Homo sapiens: one gene and its partners. The main gene of each other region encodes a partner of the protein of the gene in region 2 in a complex. Links are inferred from orthologs where the notes say so. Each region holds a gene or a part of one and is shown on either strand. Other genes may lie near its edges.

What was found.
Region 1: NSMCE1 (region 2) and SMC5 share a complex: the UniProt entries of both Homo sapiens proteins name them as parts of the SMC5-SMC6 complex.
Region 3: the proteins of NSMCE1 (region 2) and NSMCE3 are in contact, whole or in part, in a crystal structure (PDB 7DG2), measured with the Xenopus laevis proteins. The link is inferred for Homo sapiens from one-to-one orthologs. Residues at the interface, in NP_001083134.1 of Xenopus laevis: Ile5, Glu7, Gln10, Arg11, Leu13, Gln14, Ala15, Met17, Ser18, His19, Leu30, His33, Leu37, His38, Leu54, His57, Leu58, Pro60, Leu61, Phe62, Met63, Val84, Asn86, Ile88, Thr89, Met91, Ala92, Ser93, Asp94, Gln149; in XP_018121157.1 of Xenopus laevis: Gly57, Glu58, Val60, Gln61, Tyr62, Leu64, Ile65, Lys66, Gln68, Lys69, Val82, Thr100, Gln102, Gln103, Val104, Phe105, Gly106, Phe107, Asn123, Leu125, Gln126, Arg127, Val128, Gly130, Asp131, Gly132, Met133, Arg134, Asp136, Glu137.
Region 4: NSMCE1 (region 2) and NSMCE2 share a complex: the UniProt entries of both Homo sapiens proteins name them as parts of the SMC5-SMC6 complex.

Annotation. Positions count from the first base shown.
Region 1 is NC_000009.12:70,261,962-70,268,983, reverse strand, and holds part of SMC5 (structural maintenance of chromosomes protein 5), read right to left. Parts: intron 4,681-7,022; coding exon 4,539-4,680; intron 1,062-4,538; coding exon 1,009-1,061; intron 366-1,008; exon of another isoform or gene 1-365. UniProt on the Homo sapiens protein: Core component of the SMC5-SMC6 complex, a complex involved in repair of DNA double-strand breaks by homologous recombination.
Region 2 is NC_000016.10:27,265,773-27,273,129, forward strand, and holds the start of NSMCE1 (non-structural maintenance of chromosomes element 1 homolog), read right to left. Parts: upstream 3,001-7,357; 5' UTR 2,934-3,000; intron 2,603-2,933; exon of another isoform or gene 2,391-2,602; intron 1-2,390. UniProt on the Homo sapiens protein: RING-type zinc finger-containing E3 ubiquitin ligase that assembles with melanoma antigen protein (MAGE) to catalyze the direct transfer of ubiquitin from E2 ubiquitin-conjugating enzyme to a specific substrate.
Region 3 is NC_000015.10:29,266,813-29,274,484, reverse strand, and holds the start of NSMCE3 (non-structural maintenance of chromosomes element 3 homolog), read left to right. Parts: upstream 1-4,662; 5' UTR 4,663-4,779; coding exon 4,780-5,694; 3' UTR 5,695-7,672. UniProt on the Homo sapiens protein: Component of the SMC5-SMC6 complex, a complex involved in repair of DNA double-strand breaks by homologous recombination. The complex may promote sister chromatid homologous recombination by recruiting the SMC1-SMC3 cohesin complex to double-strand breaks.
Region 4 is NC_000008.11:125,087,495-125,094,879, forward strand, and holds the start of NSMCE2 (E3 SUMO-protein ligase NSE2), read left to right. Parts: upstream 1-4,365; 5' UTR 4,366-4,464; intron 4,465-6,973; exon of another isoform or gene 6,974-7,039; intron 7,040-7,385. UniProt on the Homo sapiens protein: E3 SUMO-protein ligase component of the SMC5-SMC6 complex, a complex involved in DNA double-strand break repair by homologous recombination. Is not be required for the stability of the complex.

The DNA of each region.
Region 1 (7,022 bases), on a different chromosome or scaffold from region 2:
ATCACCTAAATAATGTGCATATTTATGTGTAAAGGATTAAAATTATATATACCAAGGATGGTCAACTGGTTTCATCATAAACATCAACTCTAGTCTATCAAAAATAGCTGCCAAGAATGGCCAATTGAGAATATCCAAGCTCAAGGGAAAAGAATACTATGATGAATTATTGGTGTCATAAGGGAGAAAATAAAAAATGGTGACAGAAGTACCAAGTCCTTGTCATACATGAGATTCATCAAACTATTAGCAGTAGTTATTTATAGAATTAGGAATGATGGCAAGAAGGCTTTTATTTTCAACATTATACACTTCTACATTGTTTGCGTTTTTTAAAGACAAGCAAGTATTACTTTCAAGATCAGCAAAAAAAAAAAAACCCAGATACTTTAAATTTGTGAAAAATATTGCAACTTCATCATGACTACTTAATAGTAGTATAGTTCTATTTCATTACCTGCTATAAACTTATCATTTCCTTGATAATTTTTTAAAATAAAATTCTCACAAGTTTTTTTTTTGGGGGGGGCAGGGGGCATGGGCAGAGTCTAGCTCTGTCTCCCAGGCTGGAGTGCAGTGGCGCCATCTCGGCTCACTGCAACCTTTGCCTCCCAGGTTCCAGCAATTCTCCTGCCTCAGACTCCCCAGTAGCTGGGATTACAGGCATGTGCCACCATGCCTGGATAATTTTTCTATTTTTAGTAGAGACGGGGCTTCCTCATGTTGGTCAGGCTGGTCTCCAACTCCTGATCTCAGGTGATCTGCCCACCTCGGCCTCCCCAAAGTGCTCAGATTACAGGCATGAGCCACCATGGCTAGCCTACAATTTAAGTTTTTAAAATATATTTTTTAAACCCCTTACTTATCTGGATTAAGTATTCTTTAAATATTATTTCCAATATTTATGCCATAATACTATATTAATACTCTTTTCTAATCATCAGGAAAACATGAATATAAACTAAGAATTTTATAGGAAAAAGGAGTTTTAGCACTTTTAACACTTACAATTCAATTTCAACCATGCCTCTAGAACATCCTCTCTTCACAAAAAACCCAACCTAAGACATAAAAAAGAAAAAGTGAGCTGTGTAGTGACATTCCCAGGTTAACAATCAGAGATTTAGCAGTCATTATTATTTGTCAAATCAAGATTTTTTTCAGGTACCACTTGTATGTTCGCTCCTGTCACTTTCTAAGGTATCTCTCCCAGATCTGGGTTCCTCCATTGTTCCCTCCCACAAATAACAACAATAATAATATTAGGTAAGATTTATCGAACTCCTATGCACTCCATAGCCTCTTACCAACCTCGTGACAAAGCCAGTAAGTGCCAGAAAAACGATCTGAACCCAGGAAATCTTGGCTCCAGAGCCTGTGTACTTGTCCACTATATTAAACACCCAGACAGAAGAGAAAATGCCTGTGGGAAAACAGGTCCTATAGTATAACCACTAAGCACTCAAAGCTTCTTATTACCATTGAAGACTTCCTACAGTCGCGCAGGTTAAATATTAACAACCACGCTAATATTACCTATCCTGTTAATGATATAATTGCCACCAAGCATCGTTCTAAAAGGAGCAATATAATTGAAATTTACATGATAAAGCAGACATATCTGTGCTAGTTTCTATATGCTTATGAGTCTAAGTCCGAAAACAAAGTCTGAGCCTAAAAAAATCAGACTGGATCTTAAATCAGGCTATAAATAAGTGATAAATATTAAAAAAGGTAGAAAATATACCTCACAAATAGTAATCTTTTTAATAGTGATAATGACAGTGATGACAACAGCTAACATTTATCAAGCATTTACTATATACTGTTGTGCTAAGCACTAAACATGTATTTTTCTCATTTAATACTCATAAGCAACCTTGAAGTATACATTCATTTTATAGACAATAAAGCTGAGTCCCAGAAAGATGGGAGAAAAAAAAAAAAAAAAGCCTTATCTTGTAACCACCAAGTACAGCCTAATGCTTAAAAGTACAGGTTTTAACATCTACTATCTAGGTTCAAATCTCAACTCCACCACATACAAGTTGTTAAACATTGGACAGTTACTTAACCTCTCTGTTTCCTCACAGGAAAACCAAGGACATCCATGTAGGAATGACATCTGCTCATTAGCTTGCAAGAATTAAAAGACTTGGTACCAATGAGGAGGAAACAAAAATCAGGAGGCAGTTCTTATTATAAAGTATCCATACAGATGGTGTAGAGTATGTTTTTGTTAAATTTTTATATTAGCATTTAAACAAAAATACATTAAATATTCTTGCTGAGAACTTGGGCATCCCATAAATACATCTGTGTACCCAAAGGGCTGCAATCTGTCATCTAGGAAACACTGCACTCCACAGCCTCCCTTAAAAATCCTATCACTCAAGGATGAGATGTGTTTTCATGACAAAAATCAACATGAGAAAGTTAGTAAAAATTGTTATAGCCAATTCAGTCCTACTGTACAGCCCCTGGAGTACAATCCAACAGACGATTACAAAGAGATAGGGATTAAATGATCTGACAATTAAAAAACTATATATCAATATTCATAAAAATCTGAGTTGGTCCTTGGATGCTATCTGTTCCAACTCTCTCATCTTTGAAATGAAGAAAAACTGAAGTCCAGATAATTGCTCAAGGTCACAAGGCTAGTTATTAACAGAGAAAAGTATCTTCTACCTGATAAATGTCTTCCATATAGCACTAAACACACACACACACATTTTAAATAATTTATAATCTTAAGGGGAATTTGCTTCCATTTTGTAACCATCCATTAACTTTTAATTTTTTTTTTATTATTTCTATCTTAATAGAAATAGGATATGGTCTACGTGGTGTCCATTTTTTGAAATTTTTTGATACTTGCTTTATGACTCAGTATACAATTAACTTTTAGAAATGTTAACTTGTGCTTGAAAAGAATGCATACTCTCCAGTTGTTGAGTGCACTTTTTATAATATGTCCATTAGTTCAAGCTTAACTTCATTGTTCAAATCTTTTGTAGTCTAATTTTTTTATCTGACTGGTCTACTATTATTGATAGCTCTCCCAGTATGATTATGGATATGTTAACTGCTTGTTAGCATTCTGCAGATTTTGCCTATATATTTTGGAGCTAGATTATAATGTGAATTTGAGTTGGGAATCGAATTATCTTCCAGTGAATTAAAACTTTCGTCAGTGTTTAATGACCACTATTATCTATAAAATACTTTTTGCTCTAAAGTCTGTTTTTCCTAGTATTAATGCAGCTACATCTACTTTCTTTTGCATATTTGCCTGGCATGTATTTTTTTTCATCCTTTCACTCTCAACTTTTCTGTAGCACTTTATTTTAGATATGCTTATTAAAAACAAAAGAGAACTAAACATTGTTTCATTTCTCCATTCTAACAGACTTTATAATTTAATGAGAGTTTAGAGTTTAGATCATTTATAATCATTGTGATTATATCTGCACATATTTCTACCATCTTATTTTGTGATTTTTATTTTATTTATTTTTCTTGAGACAGAGTCTCACTCTTGTTGCCCAGGCTGGAGTGCAATGGTGCGATCTTGGCTCACTATAACCTCCGCCTCCTGGATTCAAGCAATTCTCCTGCTTCAGCCTCCCTAGTAGCTGGGATTACAGGCACCCGCCACCATGCCTGGCTAATTTTTGCAGTTTTAGTAGAGACGGGGTTTCACCATGTTGACCAGGCTGGTCTGGAACTCCTGATCATGGCCTCCCAAAGTGCTGGGATTACAGGCATGAGCTACCGCACCCAGCCAATATTTTGTCATTTTTAATGATCTCATTTTTTGTATCTGTTTCTTATCTCCTCCTCCTCCTCCTTTCTCAAGACTCCCTCTGGATTGTTCGGGCAGTATTTTTCCGCCCCCCACTCTCATGAATATGGTTAAGTGCCCTACGCAGGTGTACCATTTTTATCTTTTACACTGTATTTTTACTGTACCTTTTCTATATTTAGAGATGTTTACATAAGTACAGTGTAGGCCATTGTGTTACAATTGTCCACAGTATTCAGTACAGTAACATGCTCTACAGGAGTGTAGTCTAGGAGCAATAGGCTACACCATATAGCCTAAGTGGATAGTAGGCTAACCCATCTAGGTGTAAATATTCTCTATTATGTTCACACAATGACAAAATTGTCTAATGATGCATTTTCTCAGAATATATTCCCATCATTAAGCAACATATGACTGGATTTTGTTTCTGCCCTTTGTAAGTTTACTTCACTGTTCCACAAGCCAAGTGATGCATTTAAAAAAAAAGACATATTACATTATTTCTAGCATTTTAGGTGTAAGAGACTTGAAGAATCCTCTAGTATTATGATCCAAAATACTTCTAGAAATGAAAATCTCCTTCTAGCTTCTCTACCTGCCAAATTTATTCCTTGTATTCATGCACTATTAAGTTTGCTATACCCAAGGAACTGAGGTGTAGAAATTGATGTTACTAAAAGCAATTAATAGGTTTGAAATTTCTTAAAAAGTAATTATATTAACTCACCTTATCTGCTCGTCCCATGAAAGCAGGTTTTCCAGCTAAACCAAGGCAAATGGCACACACAATGCTCGACTTCCCTGTTCCATTGGCTCCAACGATCATATTCAAGTGGGGTCCAGGAGATACTTCACAAATATCATATGTTCTGAATTATAAAGAGATGAAATTATTAAGGAGAGATACAAAACCACTTTTCCTTGCTTTACATTATCTATGAGCTTCCTCAAATTCCTTTAAAAACTAGCTAACCTTACAAATTTAATGTTTTTTTATAGGTTTTTAATAAACAACTTTAGAAAGAATACCAATAGAAGAAATGAAAAGGCAGTAATGCATAACTAAAGAATATAATTTCATATACTTTTTTCAAAAGTCTGCTGAAGAAAGTGAAGTTTGATACCTTGTTCTTTTTTAATAATTACAAAACACTGGACACTATATCAAAGATACTACACAAAATAACTTTAAAACAAATTTTATAGGAGACGCCACGGCTTACCTTGAATCTGTGAATTTTACATTCATATTTCTTTTAAATTATAATGCTTAATGGTTATTCATATTTTAATATTTCAAACAATCTAAGCAGATTTTTAATTACAAAACTGAAGATATATCTCAACCCAAAGGTTTCATTTTATTAACTTTTAAAAATTATTTTCCAAGCCAGGCACCATGGTATGTGCCTATAGTCCCAGCTACCAGGGAGCCTGAGGCCAGGGTACTACTTGAGCCTAGGAGGTCAAAGCCAGCCTAGGCATCATAGAGAGACACTGCCCTACAAAACAAAAGTTGAAAGCTGACTAGCACTCTAATTATAGTTAGCATCTAATCTTTATTAGTTGCTAGGGACAGTTATGACAAAATGTGAAGCAAACTCTGACTCAGACATTCTTTTAACTCGCCTTTGAATACTCTGAATTTGAACCCATAAAGTGTCCTTTGTCCACAGCATTTCAGTTAGCTCTCAGGTAGCTGCCAACTAATTCCTCATGAATAAATGCTTAGCCTGCTATTCATCTGCTAAGTATATAAATAACCAAGCACACACATTAATATTTTAAGAAATTAATGATTTTGAAATGTCGGGTGGTAATAAAAATACAGGTGGCAAAGACGTATTTTCTGGCAGGTTTGCTAATCCCACACCTCTACACAGCATCTACTACTTTATCTTTTTAGCTGTTTTGTTCTGCTAGCAGCTGGGTTTCAAAAGAGCCCTTTATTATGGTTACAATAAAACTAGTTTGGGAACTTCAGACATGTAGGAAATTACCTGACATGGAACTTCTTACGCTCAACACATGAAGCCCCACTTGGATTTCCTGTTGTGAAATCTCTGTGTAAATGTTATACTAAAACGATGAAACTGGTATTTAAGAAAACAGAACAGGGAAAAGCATGAGAATTTCTGGCCTATAAAATACGCATCGATATTACAAATAGGGACAGTTGCCAAAAACAAAGCCTCTGCAATTTTTTTTTTTTTGGCGGGGGTAGGCGGGGGATTTTTCTTGCCTTTAGCTACCCAGATCAAGTGTCTGCACTGTTTAAAATCAATCTTCTGATTCTACGATGTATTTATTGGGAATTCCCTTATCATGAGTTTCCTTTCCTCTGAGCTCCCTCTGAAAGAGCTATTGGTAAAGACCCACCCTCTTATCATTCCATATACTTCACGAGGTATCTCATGTATTCTCTATGGCCTCAATGATTCCTTTTTTTCTCCAAGTCTTTGCATACTATCTACATGCTGAAAGCAGTCCAGATGACCTCTATATGCAATGGTCACCTCAATAACGCTATTTGAATGTCCCATAACAGTCATCTTAAACTTAACACATTTAAAACGAAATCCACCATCTTTCCCATCCAAAACCACTCTTGTGGTCTCTTAGTGAATGGTATTATCATTCATGCCATTGACCAAATCAGAAACCTAGGCATTAGTTTTGCATCCTCTTTGGTTCTTTCATCTCTTTTGACTCCACCCAAACCACCACTCCATCATCCAATCAATCACCAAGTGATGCTGGTAGAATTGTAAATCTGATGTCACTTGTTAAAAAAGAAAAATTAAGGAAAAACCCATCACAGCCGAGTTTCATCTTTTTCTACTTTTTATCTCCTTTCCCTATTCTCTCCTTAGACCTCTAAATTCTACCTATAATGTACTTCTTTCAGTTTTGTGACTATAATTCCTTATTGCTCTGAAGTATTTGCACATGTTATTCCTTCAGCCTCCAAGTGTCTTCCTCCACTCCCAACTCCATTTGACTTGGTTCACTCACTACTCTCTTCCAGGCCATTTACATTCTCTAACTACCCATCTTATTTCCTTGCTAATTCTCTAAGCGCATCTTTCTCTACCTCATGCCTAAAACTCAAAATCCCCTCATTAAAATAAACAGCATCTCACCAACCTCTGCACTTCCAGCTACCTTCTCTTTCTTCTCTTTGCATCCGGCCTGCAAAGTTTTCTGCTTC
Region 2 (7,357 bases):
AAGTCACACAAAATATATTTTAGGATCCTATTACATAAAATCGAAAACTCAGCAAAAGCATACATTCATTCATTAGAAATACACACATACATGGTAAAAACTACAAAGCAAAACAAGGCAACAAGTAACACAATATTCAGGGCGGTGGTTATCTTTGAGGAGGGAAGAAAGGATTCAGTGGAGGGTCTGGCAATCTGAAAATGTCTATTTCTTAACTTGGTGGCAGGTACATGAGTGTTCATTTTATTTTTGTTCTTCAAACTTACACTTCCACACAATTGTATAGGTATGTTACATACAATGTTTTTAAATGTGATGGGCTGGGCATGGTGATTCACACCTGTAATCTCAATACTTTGGGAGGTCAAGGCGGGAGGACTGCTTGAGGCCAGGAGTTTAAGACCAGCCTGGGCAACATAGCAAGATCCACTCTCAACAACAACAACAACAACAAAATAATGTGAATATGTTAAATAACAGCCAAAATAAATGTAAATGAGAATGAGAACAGGATAGGATTGAATGCTATAATTTGGTGGAAAAGGAGTGGGAAAAGTAGGAGTGGAAGAAAGACAACCATAAGCTTGTTTATGCATATTATGTCCCTTGTCTCTATGAGAAGAGACTGTAGGGAGAATGGTGGGATTAGCATAGACATGTATTACCTACTTAAATAATTTTATTTTATACAAAAATCAGCCAGGCGTGGTGGTGCACGCCTGTAATCCCAGCTACTCAGAAGGCTAAGGCAGGAGAATCGCTTGAACCCAGGAGGTGGAGGTTGCAGTGAGCCAAGATCGCGTCACTGCACTCTAGCCTGGGCGACAGGGCGAGACTCTGTCACAAAAAGAAAAAAAAAATTACTTTTTTTAAAAAAATTAATTAAAACAGTTTATTGGCTTTAAATGTACATCAGTAAATTTTTAAATGCTAAAAAGTTATGATAAAATAATACAGAACCAAAACATCAAAGAAAATAGAGGCTCAGCAGCATGATTTCAATATATTTTCCCGGATAAACAGATTTTTTTTCTAAGTATATGCCTTTTTATTCAAGAACAAAAACTCCCTAAATTCAATGTTTAGAACTGAATTTTTTTTAACTAAGCCCAGAAAACTGGGGCTCATAAAATAAGGCATAATGTGGGCAGCAAAAGAAAAAAGGAGAAAAAAAATGGGAGAAAAATTGGTTTTAATCCCATGTATAATATAGGTTGGCTGGTTTTGTTTTTGTTTTAGCCAATTTAAGGCAGAATTATCTCTCTGCAACCTTGCAGATAAATCCTAGTGTTTTAGCCATAAGTTTCAAGAGTTCATATATACAGATAAACCAATTAAAAAAACCTTTTCGAAGGCTTTTGAAGCATTATATAAATCTTTAAAATTCCTATCACCCACATTTTAAGAAATACATCTATACGTTTAAATTTATTATTAAATTAATTAAATGCATTAATTAAATCAATTTATTTAAATTTAATAATTTTAAAATAGAAATGTTTGTGGAATAAGTAAATCTCAGTCATACCATTCGTGCGGGTGCTAACACAATTCTAGTGCTTCACATGCCCGACCTCATTTAACCCAAACCAGAACAACCTTATGAGCAAAGGGTCACTGACCCCATCTTACAGATGAGGAAACTGAGACTAAGAGGGCACAAGGTGACACACAAGAGTTGGTGGCAGAGATAGACGTGACCATACAACAGCACAGTTCCTGTTTTCAAGGACACTCTCTATCCAGCGAGAGTGAGAAAAGTGAGTGAACAGAACAACTACAATCCAGGTCCCTCATCTGCAACCCTCAAATCTAAAAAGGTATGAATACTAGTGGATGATCGGATGCAGGGGAAAAAAAAAAAAAAGTCTGAATACCAAAACTTGTTTAAGTTGGAAAACTTGACCTGACTTAAGGTGAGGCTATTTATGGTTATTTATCCCAACAGTGTAAATATATGCATTTTTTTTTTTGAGACGGAGTTTCGCTCTTGTTGCCCAAGCTGGAGTGAAGTGGCACGATCTTGATTCACTGCAACCTCCGCCTCCCGGGTTCAAGCGATTCTCCTGCCTCAGCCTTCCGTCTCAGCCTCCCGAGTAGCTGGGATTACAGGCACGCACCACCACGCCCGGCTAATTTTTTGTATTTTTAGTAGAGACAGGGTTTCACCATATTAGCCAGGCTGGTTTCGAACTCCGAACCTCAGGTGATCCGCCCCCCTCAGCTTCCCAAAGTGCTGGAATTATAGCCGTGGGCCACCGCGACCAGGTCAATGTAATATATGCGTATCTTCATAACTTTAGCTGTGGAAAGGGTCGTGTATTTGATTACAAGCCGCTGCTCCAGCCCCCTCTGAGGGTGAAACCTAACATAGAACATAGGGACTTTACCTTTCCAAACTCCGAGAACTCCTCGATTTTAAACGCATCTGGCCTCGGGGCTGTAACATAAGCGGCTGCGGACTTGTACAAAGTAAGAAACTCCGTACACAAAACAGAGGGGAGCACGGAGGGCGGCGGGACAAAGAGGGTGGTCGGCAAAGGCTGTATTTTCCATAGATGTAATCACAGTTTGAATCGAATTTTATATTTTGCTTTTTCACCTGTTACAATGAAAAGTATCTTTACCTGTTAAATCGTAATTACGATTAAAAATATTTTTCACTAAATAGTAAGATTTTTAGATGTCTGCGTGTGTGTTGCGGGAGGACATCCCAGTCCGCTGTTTTCTGCGGCCCCTGTCTGGGCCTCAGTTTCCCCATCAAGAAGGGGGAAACCCCAAGACCCCAGTCCCCGAGTTCCACAGCCCACGGGGACCGACCCCGGGGCCGGACCCCACTGCCTGTCTCGCCCACCCCACCTTCCGTCCTCCCCTCGCCTTCCTTGAAGTCCCTCTTCTTTCCCCTCCAACCCCTAGCTCCCCACGTTACCCACCAGGGAGCCCAAGCGCATCCCAGGCCGCGCTAGCGGATACGGTCGCAAGGTGGACTCTTCTTCCTTTGAGGCGGGGCGAACGCGAACGCGGCGTTCCCATTGGTGGCCTGCGGCTTATTCGCCCGTCCGTTGAGTGACGCACTTCCGGTTCTCCGTTTGCGCCATTGCCCTGGTGGTTCCGCCTCGTGGGTTAGATCCCAAATTACGCCCGCTCTCGATCCTTAATAATGGGAAGGGGCTTCCACTTGTCGCCCTCCGCCTCCTGCACCTCAGTGACTTCCCTGACCAAGGAGGAAGAATTGGCGTGCAGCCTGGGCTTCCCTCAATGGCCACCATTCCGCTGGCACAATGTAGTGCCCTGCCCCGGGCCTCAGTTTCCCCATCTGTGGAACTGAGTGTGGCCTCGACGTCAAAAATGTGGACTCTGGTCCGGTCGCGGTGGCTCACGCCTGTAAGTAATCCCAGCACTTTGGGAGACCAAGGCGGGCCGATCACTTGAGGTCAGGAGTTCGAGACCAGCTTGGCCAACATGGTGAAACCCCCGTCCCTACTAAAAATACAAAAAGTAGCCGGGCGTGGTGGTGTGTGCCTGTAATCCCAGCTACCCGGGAGGCTGAGGCAGGAGAATCACTTGAACCCGAGAGGCAGAGGTTGCAGTGAGCCAGATCGTACCACAGCACTCGAGCCTGGGTGACAGAGCTCAAAAAAAAAGAAAAGAAAAATGTGGACTCTGTGGTCATAGAGCCTGATCTAGAATCCTGGCTCTGCCACTTACTAGTTGGCAGGCGCTTGGGCAAGTCACTGAGCCTCAGTTTCCTCTTCCATTAAATGAGGATATTAGTTCTTGCAAAATAGTGTTGGTGAGATTTACAAGAGATAATAACACCTATATCAGGTGCTTAGCATGGCCATTGAAAAGTGTCACATGGGAGTGCTGATTATATGTTAACTGTTATCTTACCTAGGGATTGTGAGAAAGCAAGTGAAATTACTCGTGGAAGTGAATGGACTGCTTTGAGTCTTCAAGGCGTTAATTTTCCAAACGTTTGAATTCTATCCCTGGTCTGAGAGCTAGGGATGCAGCCTAGCAAGGGAAACAGGTAACTAATATAGAACAGCAGTACCTGCAAATATCTGTCTCTGTGAGGATAGATCAAATCCAGGCTTGGTCACTCACCACCCCTGTGATCTTGGACAACCTCTTAACCTCTCTGGGCTTCAGTTTCATCTGCTAAGTGGGAAAGCAGTGGTGTGTGGTGATTAAAAGCTTCAGCTTTGGAGCTGGATGGTCAACATGGAATCCTGGGCCTTAAACTCAGTGTCTCTGAGACATAGGACAAAGTACAGTCAGCTGTCCATGTTTACAGGTTCCCCATCTACGGATTGAAGCAACTGTGGGTGGTTAATATTTGTGGGGGAAAACAGTAAAAAATAACAGTTCAACAATAAAAATAATACAGATTCCGAAAGCAATACAGCATAGCAATTACTTATATAGCATTTACATTGTATTAAGTATTGTAAGTAATTTAAAGATGATTTTCAATATACTGGAGGATTTGTGTAGGTTAAATGCAAGTATTCTCGCATTTTGTAAGCACCCAATGGTTCTCCTTGCCTGCTTCCTAGACAGAACCAATTTATCAAGACAGGGGAATTGCAATAGAGAAAGTTTAATTCACACAGAGCTGGCTGAACAGGAGACCACAGTTTTATTATTACTCAAATCAGTCTCCCTGGAAATTCAGGGTTTTCAAGGATAATTTGGTGGCTGGAGGTGCTGGGGATTAGAGAGTGTTGATAGGTTGGATCAGAGAGGAAAGGAGTCAAAGCTGTCCTCTTGCACTGAGTCAGATCCTGGGTTAGGACCATAGGACCAGATTAGCCAGATTACAGGGCTGGGTGGCGTCAGCTGGTGCATTAGAACACGGGTTCTGCAAAATATCTCAAGCACTGATTTTAGGTTTTAGAACAGTGATGTTACTCCCGGAAGCAATCTGGGGAGGGTCAGAATCTTGTAGCCTCCAGCTTGCGTGACCTCCTAAACCATAATTTCTAATCTTTTAGCTAATTTGTTAGTCTACAAAGGCAGACCCGTTCCTAGGCAAGGAGGGGATTTGTTTTGGGAAAGGGCTATTATTGCCTTTGTTTCAAAGTTAAACTATAAACTAAGTTCTTTCCAACATTAATTCCACCTATGTCCAGGAATGATCAAGGACAGCTTGGAAGTTAGAAGCAAGATGGAGTCAGGCCAGATCTCTTTCACTATCATAATTTTCTCAGTTATGCTTTTTACAAAGGTGGTTTTGATTTTACATAAGGGACTTGAGCATCGAGAATTTTGGTATCCATGGGGACTAAGGTACCAATCCCTCACAGATACTAAGGGATGACTGAGCTCAAGTTTTCAGCTTCAGTTTGCTCATCTATAAAGCAGGTTTAATAATAACACTTTGTTGATAATGTTATTCTGAAGATTAAAGGAAGAGTAAACGTAAACTACTTAGAAGAGTGTCTCTGGCACATTGTAAGCCCTCAATAAGTGTGAACTAACACCACTAATAAGTTCTTTATAAACTGCCTAATAGGTAGTCAAATAAGAGGGGAAATAAAGCCCTAAGGAGTAATATTTGTGTTTTGTTTGCCCTACATGGTTTTGTGAAATTTTCTATTCATTATCAATATTTAAAGTTGGGGTTTTCAATCTTTGACTGGGCATGATGGCTCATTCCTGTAATTCCAACACTTTGGGAGGCCCAGCTGGGAGGATGGCTTGAGCTCAGAAGTTTGAGATCAGCCATGGCCAACATGGTGAGGCCCCCATCTCTACAAAAAAAATATATACGCGCGCGCGCACACACACACACACACACACACACACGCAAAAATTAGCCAGGCATGGTGGTGAACACCTGTGGTCCCAGCTACTCAAGAGGCTGAGGTGGGAGGACAGCTTGAGCCAAGGAGGAAGAGGTTGCAGTGAGCTGAGATTGCATCACTGCACTCCAGCCTGTGTGACAGAGCCAGACTCTGTCTCAAAAATAAATAAATAAACTTGGGACATTTCACATAAAACCCTACTGTAGCTGACTGCTCTGGAAAAGTGGGGAAGTCTGACGACAGTGGGCCAGCCTTCCCCCATGGCAGCACTTGTTCAGAACTTGGGAGAGACCGTCCCCTTTTGTGAAGCATGTGCTTCCCTGGTGTGTGGAGAGATAAAAGAATAGAAAACGCTGGGAACACCAGCATTTCAAGATCAAAGCGTCAAGAAAAAAAGGTAGAAAGAAAAGAAAGATTCAAGACTGAGGGGGTTGGTCTTTCACTTGAAGACCATAGAAGTGATGGAAGACCAGGAAGAAATGAGAGAAGGTTTGTATTTTAGAAAAAGAACTTGGGTATATCTATTCTTTTCAAACATGCTTGGAACATTTACAGAAATTGATTACTGGGCCACAAAGGAAGCTTCAAGAAATTCTCAAGAATCTATAGGTGACATTCATGAACCACATGCTGTGAAAGTGGCATCAGAGGCACATAGGAATACAGACTTTTGAGAAGGAGGGTGTGGTCAGAATCGTCAATGCTCTGGAGAGGTCGAGTAAGATGCGCCACTGATTTAGAATTTGATGGCCAACAAAGGCCATCTTAATAGAGAGGGGAGGAAGCCAGATCGAACTCCAAGAGTGAAGAGTGGAAGTTGAGGAAGTGGAGAGGGAATGCTGACTGCTCTTTTGGGAAGTATGGCTTCAGAAGGGAAGACTTGAAGACATAGGAGCAGAGATAATAATCCATAAAATAAAAACAGGCAGCCGGGTGCGGTGGCTCACGTCTGTAATCCCAGCACTTTGGCAGGCCGAGGCGGGTGGATCATGAGGTCAGGAGTTCGAGACCAGCCTGGCCAATATGGTAACACCCTGTCTCTACTAAAAATACAAAAATTAGCTGGGCATGGTGGTGCGTGCCTGTAGGCCCAGCTACTTGGGAGGCTGAGGCAGAAGAATCACTTAAACCCAGGAGGCAGAGGTTGCTGTGAGCTGAGATCGAGCCACTGTACTCCAGCCTGGGTGACAGAGTGAGATTCCATCTCAAAAAAAAAAAAAAAAAGAATTTGAGACTAGCCTGGCCAACATAGTGAGACCCCATCTCTACTAAAAATACAAAAAATTAGCCGGGCGTAGTGGCGCACACCTGTAGTCCCAGCTACTCTGGACGCTGAGGCAGGAGAATGTCTTGAACCCAGGAGGTGGAGGTTGCAGTGAGCCGAGACTGTGCCAGTGCACCCCAGCCTGGGCAACAGAGCAAGACTCTGTCTTAAAAAAAAAAAAAAAAACACCAAAAAAAAAACAGACAAAAAGGGATGGGGTCAAAGGTGTATAGCGACAGGATTACTGTTAACCTAGAGAAGAGAAGAGACACTTCTGAAA
Region 3 (7,672 bases), on a different chromosome or scaffold from region 2:
TAATGTTAGTTCATCTGATCCCAAAGCCCTTACTTTTTCAAGGACACCATGTCTATGTTTGCTCTGAATCAGTATACAGTTAAAAGCCCACTCTCTGGAGGCAGATTGGCTGTGTTCAGATCTCACACCTACCACTTACTCGCTATAGAGCCTCAAAACTTAATAATCTTCTCCTGTGACAGTTTATTTGTGAGAAGAGAAACATAATAAATGCACATGCCTGATAGGTTTGTTGTGGGGATTAAATGAAGTCATACCTGTAAACCACCTGGAATAAGGTCTGACCCACCATTCACTTTGTATAGTAGTCCCCCCTTGTCTGTGGAGGATGTGTTCCAAGACCCTCAGTGGATACCTGAAATCGTGGACAGCACCAAACCCTAAATCCACAATGTTTTTCCCTATGCATAGATACATACTGTATTAGTCAGGGTTCTCTAGAGGGACAGAATTAATAGAATAGATGTATATATGAAAGGGAGTTTACTAGAGTATTGACTCACATGATCACAAGGTGAAGCCCCACAATAGGCCATCTGCAAGCTGAGGAGCAAGGAAGCCAGTCTGAGTTCCAAAACCTCAAAAGTAGGGAATCCAATAGTGCAGCCTTCAGTCTGTGGCTGAAGACCCTTGAACCCCTGGCAAACCACTAGTGTAAGTCCAAGAATCCAAAAGCTGAAGAACTTGGAGTCTGACTTTCAAGGGAAGGAGGCATCCAGCATGAGAGAAAGATGAAGACCAGAAGACTCAGCAAGTCAAGTCCTTCCACGTTCTTCTGCCTGCTTTTATTCTAGCCGCACTGGCAGCTGATTAGATGGTGCCCACCCAGATTGAACGTGGGTCTGCCTCTCCTAGTCCACTTACTGAAATGTTAATCTCCTTTGGCAACACCCTCACTGACACACCCAGGAACAATACTTTGCTTCCTTCAATCAAGTTGACACTCCACATTAATCATCACACGAACCTATGATAAAATTTAATTTACGCCAGGAGCGGTGGCTCACACCTGTAATCCTAACACTTTGGGAGGCTGAGGTGGATGGATCACTTGAGGTCAGGAGTTCGAGACCAGCCTGGCTAACATGGTGAAACCCCATCTCTATTAAAAATACAAAAAAAGCCAGACGTGGTGGTACACACCTGTAATCCTAGCTACTCGGGAGGCTGAGATGTGAGGATCTCTTGAACCCAGGAGGCGGAGGTTGCAGTGAGCCAAGATCGTGACACTGCACTCCAGCCTGGGCGACAGAGCGCAACTCCATCTCAAAAAAAAAAAAAAAAAGTTTAATTTATAAATTAGTCATAATAGAGATTAACAATAATTGATGAGAAAAATGAAATCTTAAGCCCTCCAGCTGACTGAACAGACCCCCTCTTGGCCAAGGGGACCCCGAATAACCTTGGAAACCCTCACCCGCTCTAAATGCCATTAGGCTTTCTTCCCTAAGAGCTAAACAGAAATCAGCCCTTTCAAAAGACTCCACTGCTGGTATAAACCAACCACCTGATGCTGCCCCTCCCTTTTGCAGTTTTGGCACAATTGACCAGCAGTTCTTCCTGGTAAAAGACCACCAACCATGGAGTAGTTCTGGCCAGTCTATGGAAGACATGCAGTCAGGGTTTTCATGTCCTCTACTTCACCTTTTGATGTCAGAGGGCTGAAAACTCCTACCCTGGATCATGCTAACACTGCCAATTTTGGAATATGGGTCCCAGGGAGAGACATGAAGTGCAATTGCGCATATGCACATTTCTCCTTGCATAAATGTTCATGACTCCTCCTATAGCTTATTAAATATGTATATTTGGCCACCCCATTCTGCATAGATTCCTGCTCCCTTTGCCCTCCCTTGAAGTGTCTGTTTCTGGCTTCTAGCATGAGGTTGTCTTCCTAGCCTGTTGGAATGGCCGCCCCGCAGACTGCAACCCTTTATGAGAAATAAAGCTCTTTCCAAATTTATGAACCTCGTCATCCTTCAGTTGACACTAACAATAAAGTAGAACAAATATAGTGTAATAAGTTATATTGTGGTTTCTCTTTGAAAATATCCTAATATTTTCGGACTGTGGTTGACTGCAGGTAACTGAAACCACAGAAAGTAAAACTGCAGACATGGAGATGGAGCAGCAACTACTATAATCATTGGCTGTTGTCGGTTATATTTATTGTTACTAATGTTAGTATTGTTATCACCACAGTTTCTCCCCAGACATCCATGGCTTCCAGTATCAATCCAAGGTGGAATGTGGGTCTGGATGACTTCTCCATGCAGGGCCTAAAACTTCATTCTAATACTCTTATTTTATGTCTGCATTTTCTCACCTGCATTCTTCTGGAAAGAGTGTAGAGAGATGTTTTGAGACTTAAAAACTGGTATCTCTTCTCCTCTATCTTGAGTAATGACAGTCTGCTATCTAGGTAAGCGTGCTGCTGGAGGACACTGCTGATTTTCACAGTGACAGGGGTAGTCTGACTGGTGGGCTGCTTGGTAACGTACATGAATACCTTAGCAAGAAAGAGCACTGAAAAACCAGCCCAACTGTTGACAATAGCTTTTATCTAATTTTCCACTTTCCCCTTATATCTCGGTCACTGAACTTTTTTGACTCAAGGCACTGTAGCAGGACGAGCCGCAGACAAAATCTCTCAGACACCGAGTTGCACAAGGAAGGGCTTTATTCAGCTGGGAGCATCGGCAAGCTACTGCCTTAAAATCCGAGCTCCCCAAATGCACAATTTCTGTCCCTTTAAAGAGCTCACAACACTAAAGATTTTACATGAAAGGGTCGTGATTGATCAGAGCAAGCAGGCGGTATGTGACAGGGGCTACATGCACCGGTGGTCAGAGAGAAACAGAACAGGGCAGTTCTGTTCTTTATACAATGTTCTTCTATACAATGTCTGGAATCTATGAATAACATCGGTTTCTAAGTTATGAGTTGATTTTTAACTACTGGGTTTAGGCCAGGCAGGCCCAGGCCTGGTTTTGGGCCTGGCGCTGGGCTGCCTGTATTTGGTTTTACTTCCTTGTTGTTTTTTCTTAAAACAGGTACTGAGTATAAAACAATATAAAACAATATGAGACGGTCTCTCTATTCCCTCAATACAACATCCACATCCTGCAGTAGGGACCTTTTGCAGAATTCTAGATGGCAGGAAGCTTCTATGAACCTAAGTCCAGATTTTAATTTGCAAGGAAACTGAAGCAGATGAATTTTCTCATTGTAAAAAAATGAATGCCTTGATAATATATTTGTTTTTCATAGTAGGCCTTTGTCATTAAAATTGATGCCTGAGGATATAGTTGCATCTTGTGTGGAACAGTAAGTTATTACTCATTGCATACCAGATTTTAGCATACTTGCATTAGTTCATGGAATATGATTTTACATTTACTATTGCAGTTCCAGTGCCATTATCAGATTGCATTTTCCTACTGAATTACAAACAAAAGTGTTATGCTACTAACAATTAACAAAATTTTAATAAGGTTGTGTTTGATGCTATTACTCAGATAATGTGTTCTAAATTGCTTTCCTTTGAATATATTTGCATTAAAGAGGAACTCAATTTGGTTCTTTGAAGAGTTTATCCACTTTCTGGGTAGCTTTAAAAAGACACAGGGAAATTCAGTTTCTTCTTTGCAAGTAAATAGAGAAGAAACAAATTTGCTAAGATCTGTAGAAGTCATGGCAGCAGACTGCTGATGGTTTGAGTTAATGAAATGACTCATTTTGGCTACTTGAGTTGCACAATTAAAATATACAGTAGAGACTGTATATCACATCATAGATGAGAGATAAATCCCCCAGTGTTCTCTTTTTTTTCCTCAAAGCTAATATATTATGAATTAAGAAATTTAAGAGCTCCACATTATTGCAATTCTTGATCAGTGATGCCCCAAATTAAGTAGTAATCTCTTGAGAGTGCACGTTTGTTTGCAGCATTCCTCTTACCCATTTCTGCTAAAATTGTGGTTGTGACGAAAGCAGTTGTTTTCCAAAAGATAAACCCATGTGACCAAGCTAAAACATTTACCTAATACTGACACGTTTTTTGTGGTCTTCTCATAGTTGTCTAGCTAAAGGAGTTTAATGCAGAGAATATAAATACGGAAATAGTGAAACTGAAGTCCTGCTTGCGCAGAAAGCCTGCAGCCGACTTTGGTTTTTAACAGACTCCACGGGGCATTAGAGAAAGTAACTGGGGGCAGTGGGATGGAGGGTATGAAATTGGGTGGAGGGACGAAAACTAAGAGCCCTCTGGGTCTTTTATGTCCTTCTACATTTTGTGTAGAAATAAATGTTTTTACTTTACTTCCACGGTCGGCCCTTCCTCTTCACCTTTTTTTTTTCTCACACGTTCATCCTCTGAATTCTTTCCGTTTACAAATGCTCCCGATTTAGAAACTCATAATACTGTCTGTAAAACTTGCCTGAGCCTGTGTGGTCTGAATTTAGCGACACACTTGTTTAGGAGTTTCGGTTCTCGCTCTCTGTTTGCATGGTTTGGTAACAACACTTCACTATACTAAAAATCATCGCCCGGACCTGCAGGGCTGCACGGAAAACGCTGTTCCTTTTGGTACCCGCCGCAGCCGCGCAGGCGCACCGCCCAGCCGCCCTGACGCAAGGCGCAGGCTTCATGACGCAGCACGCAGTCTCAGCCGACACTGCGCGCGCCTCCAGGCACCGGCGTTAGCGGGTCGCCGACCCGCAATCCCCGCCGCGGCTGCTTGCCTACCGGAGTGTGCGCCGGCACCTGCCGCCGGAGACATGTTGCAAAAACCGAGGAACCGGGGCCGCTCTGGCGGCCAGGCCGAGAGGGACAGAGACTGGAGCCATAGCGGAAACCCCGGGGCTTCGCGGGCCGGGGAAGACGCCCGGGTTCTCAGAGACGGCTTTGCCGAGGAGGCCCCGAGCACGTCCCGCGGGCCGGGCGGCTCGCAGGGGTCGCAGGGCCCCTCGCCTCAGGGCGCCCGCCGGGCCCAGGCCGCCCCCGCCGTGGGGCCCAGGAGCCAGAAGCAGCTGGAGCTGAAAGTGTCCGAGCTGGTGCAGTTCTTGCTGATTAAAGACCAGAAGAAGATTCCGATCAAGCGGGCCGACATACTGAAGCACGTCATCGGGGACTACAAGGACATCTTCCCCGACCTCTTCAAACGGGCCGCCGAGCGCCTCCAGTACGTCTTCGGGTATAAGCTGGTGGAACTTGAACCCAAGAGCAACACTTACATCCTCATCAACACCCTGGAGCCTGTGGAGGAGGATGCCGAGATGAGGGGTGACCAAGGCACGCCCACTACGGGCCTCCTGATGATCGTCTTAGGGCTCATCTTTATGAAGGGCAACACCATCAAGGAAACTGAAGCCTGGGACTTTCTGCGGCGCTTAGGGGTCTACCCCACCAAGAAGCATTTAATTTTCGGAGATCCAAAGAAACTCATTACTGAGGACTTTGTGCGACAGCGTTACCTGGAATACCGGCGGATACCCCACACCGACCCCGTCGACTACGAATTCCAGTGGGGCCCGCGAACCAACCTGGAAACCAGCAAGATGAAAGTTCTTAAGTTTGTGGCCAAGGTCCATAATCAAGACCCCAAGGACTGGCCAGCGCAGTACTGTGAGGCTTTGGCAGATGAGGAGAACAGGGCCAGACCTCAGCCTAGTGGCCCAGCTCCATCCTCTTGAAAGGTGGATTCAGAGGGACCCCCGGGACAAGGGTCTGAGACCCAAAGGCACAGTTTAGAGGATTGGGGGAAGGGAGAACGAACCCAGGGAGCATATTGCTGTAAACGCTTCAATGTGTGTAGCTTTAGGATGTGTTTGCAAAGTTTTGTTTTTTTAATGTTGTGTTATTTTGCTCCAGATTTTCATCTATAAACAAAGGAGCATTTGTTTTGATTTTACTCTTTTTGGTATAAAAAATTTTGCTAGCTTAGTAAAACGAATTGGAAAACTTGACTATGATCTGGAACAGATAATGCAAGAAGGAACACATAAGTAAGTTGCTTTGGTGCCAAGAAAATAAAAAAGCTATTATCAGGTCTCCTAACTACCCCAGTTTGTAAGGAAAAATAAAAGTTTTTATAAAATTAAAAAAAATAATTGCCTATATCCTTATTATGTTAACCTATTTTATTTTTCTATATTTCGTACATATATAAGTATTATTCATGGTTCCAAGCAATGAGTGTAATGTATTTTCTCCCAATAGTAATTGTTTATATTCATAATTATTCAGCTCTGCTGCTAAACACGTAGTTCCACTTCGTTTTTTTCTTCTTGCTACTGTAGTTATTACAATAAATACTGTATTTTTGAAGCACTTAAGCATTGTGTGTTTTTTAAATCGTGGGTCATGAGAGAATTTCATGACTGGAAATCAACATCTTAAAGTTTTTGCTACATATTAAGGTCAATGCTGTTTTGTAGAAGTTGTTTCACTTTTGTGTGAAACAAAATCAGGATCATGAGGTGAAATATATTTCTCACTGTGGATCTCAAAAAGGCTTATAAAACAATAGCGTAACCATTAACCATGCCTGTTTGGGAATCGGACTGTCTGGGTTGAGATCCTGGCCCCACCATAACTAGTATATGAATTTACATAGGTTCCTTAGTTTGTATGCAGATGTTTCTTGACCTGTAAAATGGTTTTAGTCCGTGATGTGGAGAATTTTATTTGTTATTCTTTAATGTTTTTATTTTTTATTCTCCTTGGTCTGGAGCTGCCACTTTTTAAATATAACTTTTCTTTATCTTTTTTTCCAAATCATTCCTAGGAGAGCAATTCCTGGTTCAAAAGATAGTCCTCTAGTCTCACTCTATTGTATGGGGAAATATAACGTGTATGGTGAGTGTGCCCCACATAGAACATAAGAGCAGGACATAAGATCTACCTCCTAGGGAGTTAGGTATAGGGAAAAGGGTATGGGTCTTGGGGCTGTCTGGCAAACTGAATTTGAATTACGGCTCATGCTAACTTGTCAGCATGGTGGTTGTGGGGGTAGGTTTTAAGCTCTCTGAATCTCAATTTATCTGTAAAATGAGAAAAATAATAGCTATATAATAGTTTTATGCACTAAATGAACTAGAAGAGTTCATAGTCCCATTGTGTTCCTCCATTACGTGTAGCAGATGCTGTTTTTAATGCAGAGATTCAACACGTTTTATTCAGTGGGCAAATAAGTTAATTGTTTTAGGGGGAGGTGCTGCAAATTAACCTTGAAATAAGGCAAATATTTTTAACTCGGGGAAAAAAGTGAACTTCATCAACACTGGACGGAATGTCATTTAAAAGAGTCTATAGTGAGTATGGAGGAATGTGATAGGTTACTGGGTTTTATTTCATTCTGTTGAATTGGGATTTGCATTTGTTTCATCAGTGGAATATGTTTGGCCCTTACAGGCATTTCTTCTTGATCTGCATTTTATTTCAGTGTATAAACTCCTTCCTGCCTCCTGGTCCCCTTACCTCCCTGACTCAGCTTTCTCCTCCTCATGCCCTCTGATACTCGCATTCTCACCTGTATAATAAAAATTATTACCCAGCAGTCACCACCAGTTATATCTGAGGCAAAATTCCCCCCGCTTTTCTCAGAGGTGTTAGCAATTTACCATCGATAATCTTGTTTCAAATTTTAAAATATGAAACATCAGAGGCCAC
Region 4 (7,385 bases), on a different chromosome or scaffold from region 2:
AAGGTAGGAGGAATGCTTGAGCTCAAGAGTTCAAGACCAGTCTGGGCAACAATAGCGAGACCTTGTCTCTACTAAAAATCAAAAGAATATCAGTCAGGTATGGTGGTGCGAGCCTGTAGTCCCAGTGACAAGGGAGGCTGAGGTGGGAGGATTGCTTGAGCCCTGGAGGTTGAGGCTGCAGTGAGCCATGATCGTGCCACTGCACTCTTGCCTGGGTGACAATGAGACCCTCTCTCAAAAAAAAAAAAAAAAAAAAATTTTCTCACATGTCAAGTATAGGAGATTCTTGCTATTAAGAATAGTTCATATCTGAAAAATGCTAGAGTGATTACAAAATACAGAAAAATGTTTCATAAAAAGGAGAAGAAAAAGTTTTGATTACAAATGTATCTTGAAATTTGTGAAAATGAGCTTTATATATTAGGCTGTGATAAGTGCCGTGAAGAAAAAACATAATAAAGGATGGGGCATATGCTAGTTTCCATAGAGCACCTCGGGCAGAAGTCAGAAGGAAATGAGAGAGCAAGCAGTATGGATATCTGGGTATGGTCAGCAGCTTTCTAAAGTGGTCCCTAATGATCTCTGCCTCCTGGTATTCATGTTCTATGTAGGTTCCTTCCCTTGAGTATAAGCTGACTTACTGACTCCCTCCTAAAGAGGAGAATAGGGCCAGGTGTGGTGACTCACTCCTGTAATTCCAGCACTTTGAGAGGCTGAGGCACATGGATCACCTGAGGTTAGGAGAGCCGGGATCACCCCGGCTCTACTAAAAATACAAAAATTAGCCAGGCATGGTGGCAAAAACCTGTAATCCCAGCTACTCGGGAGGCTGAGGCAGGAGAATTGCTTAAACCCAGGAGGCGGAGGTTGCAGTGAACCGAGATTGCACCACTGCACTCCAGCCTGGGTGACAGAGTGAGACTTCATCTCAAAAAAAAAAAAGGGGGAGGGGGGGAAGGAAATAGGATAGAAACAAAAGATACAGTGCACTTCTGAGATTAGATTTCGAAAAGACTAACTTCTGGCTTGGGCACCCTCTGTAGCTTGCTAGTCCAGGGGAAGCAACATATCATGGTGTGAGAGAGCCCTGGGGAGAAGCCCATATGACAAGGAACTGAGGCTTGCCAAAAACCACCTGAGTGAACTTGAAAGTAGATCCCTTATAATCCCAGTCCAGCCTTCAGATAAGACCATAGCTCCTTGTTCCCAGCCTGACTGCAATGTTCTAAAAGCCCCAGAGCCAAAGGCAGCCAGCTATGCCCTACCCTCCGGACCATAGATGCTATAAAGCTTATTGTCTTAAGCCACTGGGTTCTGGCATAGTTTATTATGCAGCAATAGATAATGATCCTAATAATGGCATCCCAAGCAGAGGTTACAAGTAAGTGCAAAGGCCCCAGGGCAGGAATGTGCTAGATGGCTAGCAAGGTGGCTAAAGTGGCTGGAGCAGAGTCAGCTAGGGGCGGAAACAGAAGAAGTAGACTGGATTGGATCTGAGAGCCAAGAAGCCACTACAGCTGTCTAGAACTCCCATGAAGGTACCCTGTAATACACATTAAGGCATACATTATTAACAAGTTCTTTTAGTTTCCTCTGTGATACTTGCTTGTTAAACCACACTGATCTCTAACAGGCTGAATTTCAGATAATTTCATTTCATTTTCTGCATGGATATGGTCTGGCTTGGGAAAGCAGAGAGGGAAAGGGGAAATAATGGACAGTGGGCAAAACAGTCACATACTAAAGCCCTCTGAAGACCACCAAACTAACCCAGAAGGTCTAAGTAGGATGAAACTTTACACCAGGAGTGTCCAATCTTTTGGCTTCCCTGGGCAATATTGGAAGAAGAATTGTCTTGAGCCACACATAAAATACACTAACACCAAAAATAGCTGATGACCTTAAAAAAAATCGCAAAAAAATCTCATAATGTTTTAAGCAAGTTTACAAATTTGTATTGGGGCACATTCAAAGCCATTCTGGGCCGCATGTGGCCTGCAGGCCTCAGGCTACACAAGCTTGCTCTAGACTCATGAAGAGGAGGACAAGCTATGATTAACAGGTCCAATGGCTACCCGATTTGGGATACCATGACAGGGCAACAATGTGGCCCTGGGAAAAACAACTTAAAGCAAAGTAACATTACTTGCCCTTTACTCTACTCTCTCCCAACATACAGAAGGACAGACAGACTCAGCACCTGCATGCACACATTCGGGGAAGCTTCAGTCTGGGATAACGACAGAGATCAAGACTTTCGTGTGTCAATCTCTTGTTTTAATCCTTAGTCCCTTACTCAAGAATTACGCTGTAGACAACTTTAAAAGAACATGAGGAGGATAATAATAACCAAATATGTTCGGCAATAGTAAAACAAATATTATGGGTCTTTATTACCTAGGTAAATCACCTTTCTAAAATTCTATATATAAACTTTATATTAAATTTTTAATGCAAAAGCATATGAGTTATATTTAATATACTTTTACTGAAATGAACTCACTGCTTGTAATCTGTTTTGCCCCATGAAGGGCACTTGTGTTTTCTATTTCTAATAATGCAAGCATCTCCTGCTAAGTTTTTGAAGATGGAAGAAGTTAAAACAAGATTAGCTGAAAGAAGGAAATCACTTAGTTACATTTTATGTACTAGACCTCCTAACCCGGACTAGTTATATTTTCCATGTAACAAATGGAATTTCCATAATTTGTACAAATATAATTTGGCTAGAGTATTTGGTAAATAGCCCCCTCGTTGGCTGAAGGACTAGTCCTGAAGAACAGAATCTAAGAACCATCATTAAAAATGCCTAATCAAGTTGCAGCTAAGAGGTAGGTGGATGGCTTTACAAAGTGTTAAGACTCAGCTAAGTCTTAAAAAACCACTTTAGAATTAGGTCCAAATAAACACTGTAGAAGAAGCTATGTTAAATTATCCTTTCAGAGGTTCTCTTGGTGCTAGGGATCAAGAACACTTGAAGATCAGTTTTCTCAATACAGGCTATATTATTATTGGCATGAAATCCAGAGATCCCACTATATTTTCTTATTTTCTTTTACAAGTGCCGGTAACTTCATTTTTAATAATTTGGCGTGGAACTGTGATTTTCAGTTTGGGAAGTAATCCTAATCAAAAGACATGCTTTCAAGAATAAGGCATGACATCCTTACACCAATTACCCTGAGTACAGAATAATATTTCTTAAGGAAATCGAATTGTCGTGGACAAACAGTTTACCCTCTTCAGAGGACAAAAGAAGGCAGGTCTATTTTTAGCCTTTCGCAAAACCTCAGTTCCATAAAGGAAGCACTGGTCTCCACAAATCCATTATCACAAACAAAATATAACGGTTGCTGATCAAGATAAATGCAAGCTGCATATATTTTCCAGAAAAGTTCTGAAATGAGGCTGAACCTGAAATCCTGGGAAAGGCAGGTGAAGGACAATTAGAGAAGGTGTCCCTTGTAGTGCACAAAGACAGTAAAACTTCGCCCTCACTACGCCTCACCTATGTTTGAGGGAGCTCCATGCGCTTGCAATCAGGAGACCCAGTTTTATGGCTCTGTGACTTTTTTTCTTTCTCCTGTCCGATCATAATCCTGATTCCGATCCCAGGAATCAGGGCCCTGGGAACTTTTTTTTTTTCCCCCAAATGCAAAGGATTTTGACATCAGTATGTCACAGGTGAAGGCATTAAGGCGCGGCGAGCAGCAATGACTTGCCCAAACTCACAGCCCATGGCATAACTAGAATGCAAATCCACGTCTGTCAGCCTGTAAAAGTCCTCACTACTAGCCTTTCAGTTTTCTCAAAAGCAAAGAGAAATAACGACGACATCCATACAGCAGTGTTCCCGGAAACTTGGAAGGATGAGATTCGGACCAAGCAGCTGAACGGTGCTTCCTAAAGCGAGGAAGGGGTGTGCAAAATGATTTCCCCCTAAGCGGAGACGAAGAGCTGGATTACAGCCCCCGCCCCAGAAAGCCCCTAAGCCCTCCATCCCGAGTCCCCCATCCAGGCTGCACGCGACTCTGCAGACCTCCCCGTGGCCAGCGCGGCCCAGCGGGGAGGGGAAGGGGGCCATGCAAAAATGGGGCGCGCTCACTCCATCCCCACTCACCTGTCAGCCGGGCCGCGCCACGGCGCACGCGCAGGGCCGGAGGTCGCGCGCGGAGCCGGCACCCAGTTTCCACCCCTCCCTCAAGGCGGCGGTCCTCTTCTATCCGCAGTCCCGGACCTGGAGCGGGTCAGACCCCGACTTCCGCCCCTGACTCCCCAGGCGGTCACATGACCGAAGCGGCTGGGAGCAGGGAGGGGCATCATGTGACCACTCGCCGGCGACGGCTGATGACGCAAGAGCCCGCTCTCACTTTTCAGCGGCAGGCGAAGGGGGCTGAGGAAAGGAGGTGGGTCTAGGCAGGGGAAATTGGGGTGCCACCAGACGGAGACAGCTTGGACTACCAGGTAGGGAAGAAGCGGGGGACGGCAATGGGGAGGGTGGCAGGAGTTTCGCCACCCTCAGGGACACTCCACGGGGACTCCGAGCCGGGGGTCCGTCTACCCGGATTATGGTTGTGGAACTTTTCACGCCACGGTAGTGAGTCTGGGACAGTTTACCCTCCTGTCCGAGACGCCATCTCTCCATCCTTTCGCCTCAAGTGTGTAGGGGCAAGATTACGAATTTTTGATCCAAATAGATTTTGTTTGAACTGACTTTAAAAGTAAGGCCACGGGAAGGTCGTTTGAATAAACTCTCTGGACCTCAATTTCCTCTTCAGTTATGTAGATTGCAGTGAGAATTAGCGATAAGGAGAATAAAGTGCCGGGACACCAGTTTATGGCATTCTGTAGGTGACCGAGAAATGATGATGTCTGTTGTTATTTTTGTAACTGGCCAAATCTTTATTGGTCCCCTATTTTGTGTGAGGAATTGCTTTATATGCAATAGAATATGTCAGGGTTCTAGTTTAAGGAGGTGTCAGTTTAAAGAAGCTGCAGACATGTGAGCAAATAGTTGTGATGAGTTTCATAATAGGAGTGTGTTGTGTACATGTGCATGTGATAGGGATAATGGTAGCATGAGGGAGGGAAAAGCAATTGTATGAGAAGGATTCAGAGAGAAGGGATTATCCTTGCATGTTGAAAAAGGAGAGGCAGCTCTGGCTGACTTGTACAAGGCTCCCATGGATTTAAAGGAAGTCAACATATTGTCTATAAATAACATGCAGAGAAAAAACTCAGGAAATGCACAACTTGTTCTAAACTTTCTTGGAGATCATAGGTACCGGGAAGAAAAAGATCAGTGTTATTACCTGGGGAGGGATCCAAGAGAGATTGATTTAAACCAGTTATTCTCAACTGATGCACTATTGACATTTTAGGCCAGATAATTTTTTGCTGTGGGGTCAGGGTGAGGGCTGTCCTGTGTTTTGTAGGATGCTTAAGAGCATCCCTGGCCTCTGCCCGCTAGATGCCAACCACAAAGTCTACAGATACTGCTAAATGTCCCCTTGCGAGAGGGGTAAAATCCTTCTTGGTTGAGAACCACTTAAACCAAGCCATGAAAGATGGTATCTTAGTCAATGTGGGCTTCTGTAACGGAAATGCCATAAACTAGGTAGCTTATGAACAACAGAAATTTATTTCTCACAGTTCCGGGGCCTGTTTCCTGGTTCATAGGTGGCTTCTTGCTGTGTCCTCACATGGTGGAATGGCAAAGCAGCTATCTGGAGCATCTTTTAAAAGGGCACTAATCTTATTCATGAAAGTGGGCCTCATCACCTCCCAAGAGGCCCCACCTCCTAATACCATCACCTTGGAAGTTAGGATTTCAACATATACATTTTGGGTGACACAAACATTCAGACTTTAGCATATGGGTAAGATGTGGGCAGATAGAAAACTGAAGAGAGGCCCTGGCACAGTGGCTTATGCCTGTAATCCCAGCACTTTGGGAGGCCAAGGCGGGCGGATCACTTGAGGTCGGGTGTTTGAGACCAGCCTGGTCAACATAGCGAAACCCTCTCTCTACTAAAAATACAATAAATAAATAAATAAATAAATAAGTAAATAAATAACATAATTGGTGTGTCCTGGCACACACCTGTAATCCCAGCTACTCGGGAGGCTGAGGCAGGAGAATCCCTTGAACCCAGGAAGCAGAGGTTGAGGTGAGCCGAGATCATGCCACTGCACTCCAGTTTGGGCGACAGAGCGAAACTCTGTCTCAAAAAATAAATAAATAAATAGAAAGAAAACTGAAGAGAAGGTTTTCTCATGGTGGGAGCAGGATGAGGAAAAGTCCTCTTTTTCCTTTTTGGTGACAGCGTCTCACTCTTATCGTCCAGGCTAGAATGCAGTAGCATGATCATAGCTCACTGCAGCCTTGGACTCCTGGACCCAAGGAGTCCTCCCACCTCAGCCTTCCGAGGGTCTAGGACAATAGGTGCAAGCCACTATGTCTGTGTAAGTTTAAATTTTTTTTTTTTTTGTAGAGTTGGGGTCTTGCTGTGTTGCCCAGGCTGGTCTTAAACTCCTGGCCTCAAGCAATCTTCCTGCCTTGCCCTTTCAAAGTGCTGGGATTATAGGCATGAGCCACCACACCCAGCCTGAACAAAGTCTGGAGCTGAGATTAAGAATATTGGGTATGAAGGGGAGAAGGAAACAGGAGAGCTATGAATCTGACTGAAGCAGACAGTTAATTTATTCATTTATTGACTATTTTCAGAGCACTTGCTGTTTGTGAAGCACTGCTAACATCTTGCAAGATAGTCACTAACAAAGTGGAGTGACTATAATTATAATTATATCAAAGAAGGTGCTGTTAGAGTCAGAGAAAGGAGTTGTCTTTGACTTGTACTTAGCTGTATTTATTGGGAGAGATTGAGAAAAGTATGTCTGTTCCATCTTTCTGCACCATCCATTGCCTTTGCTTTTCAATTCAATCTCAGTCTTAATCTTTTCCCTACTCCAGAATTACAGAAGAGCATGATCGTGTTTTCCTTGGTCCTCTGCAAAAGTGAAGTTTCACTAAAGTAATGTGAGTTTTGCATTCAAACAAATAGTGACAGCTACTGTTTGGTAGATACTTTCCATTTATACTGGATTGCATTAATCTTCATAGATACTGTGTCTTTGTTCAAGCTACCATAACAAAATACCATAGACTGGGTGGCTTAAACAACAGAAATTTATTTCTTACAGTTCTGGAGGCCAGAAGTTCAAGGTGAGGTTGCCAGCATAGTTGGATTCTGGTGAGGACTTTCTTCTTGGCTTGTAGATGGCTGCCCTTTTTATGTGTCTTCACATGGTAGGGAGAGAGAGAGAGAGCAGTCCCTGGCGTCTCTTCCTTTTCTTTTCTTTTCTCTTTTTTTTGAGAAAAGAGG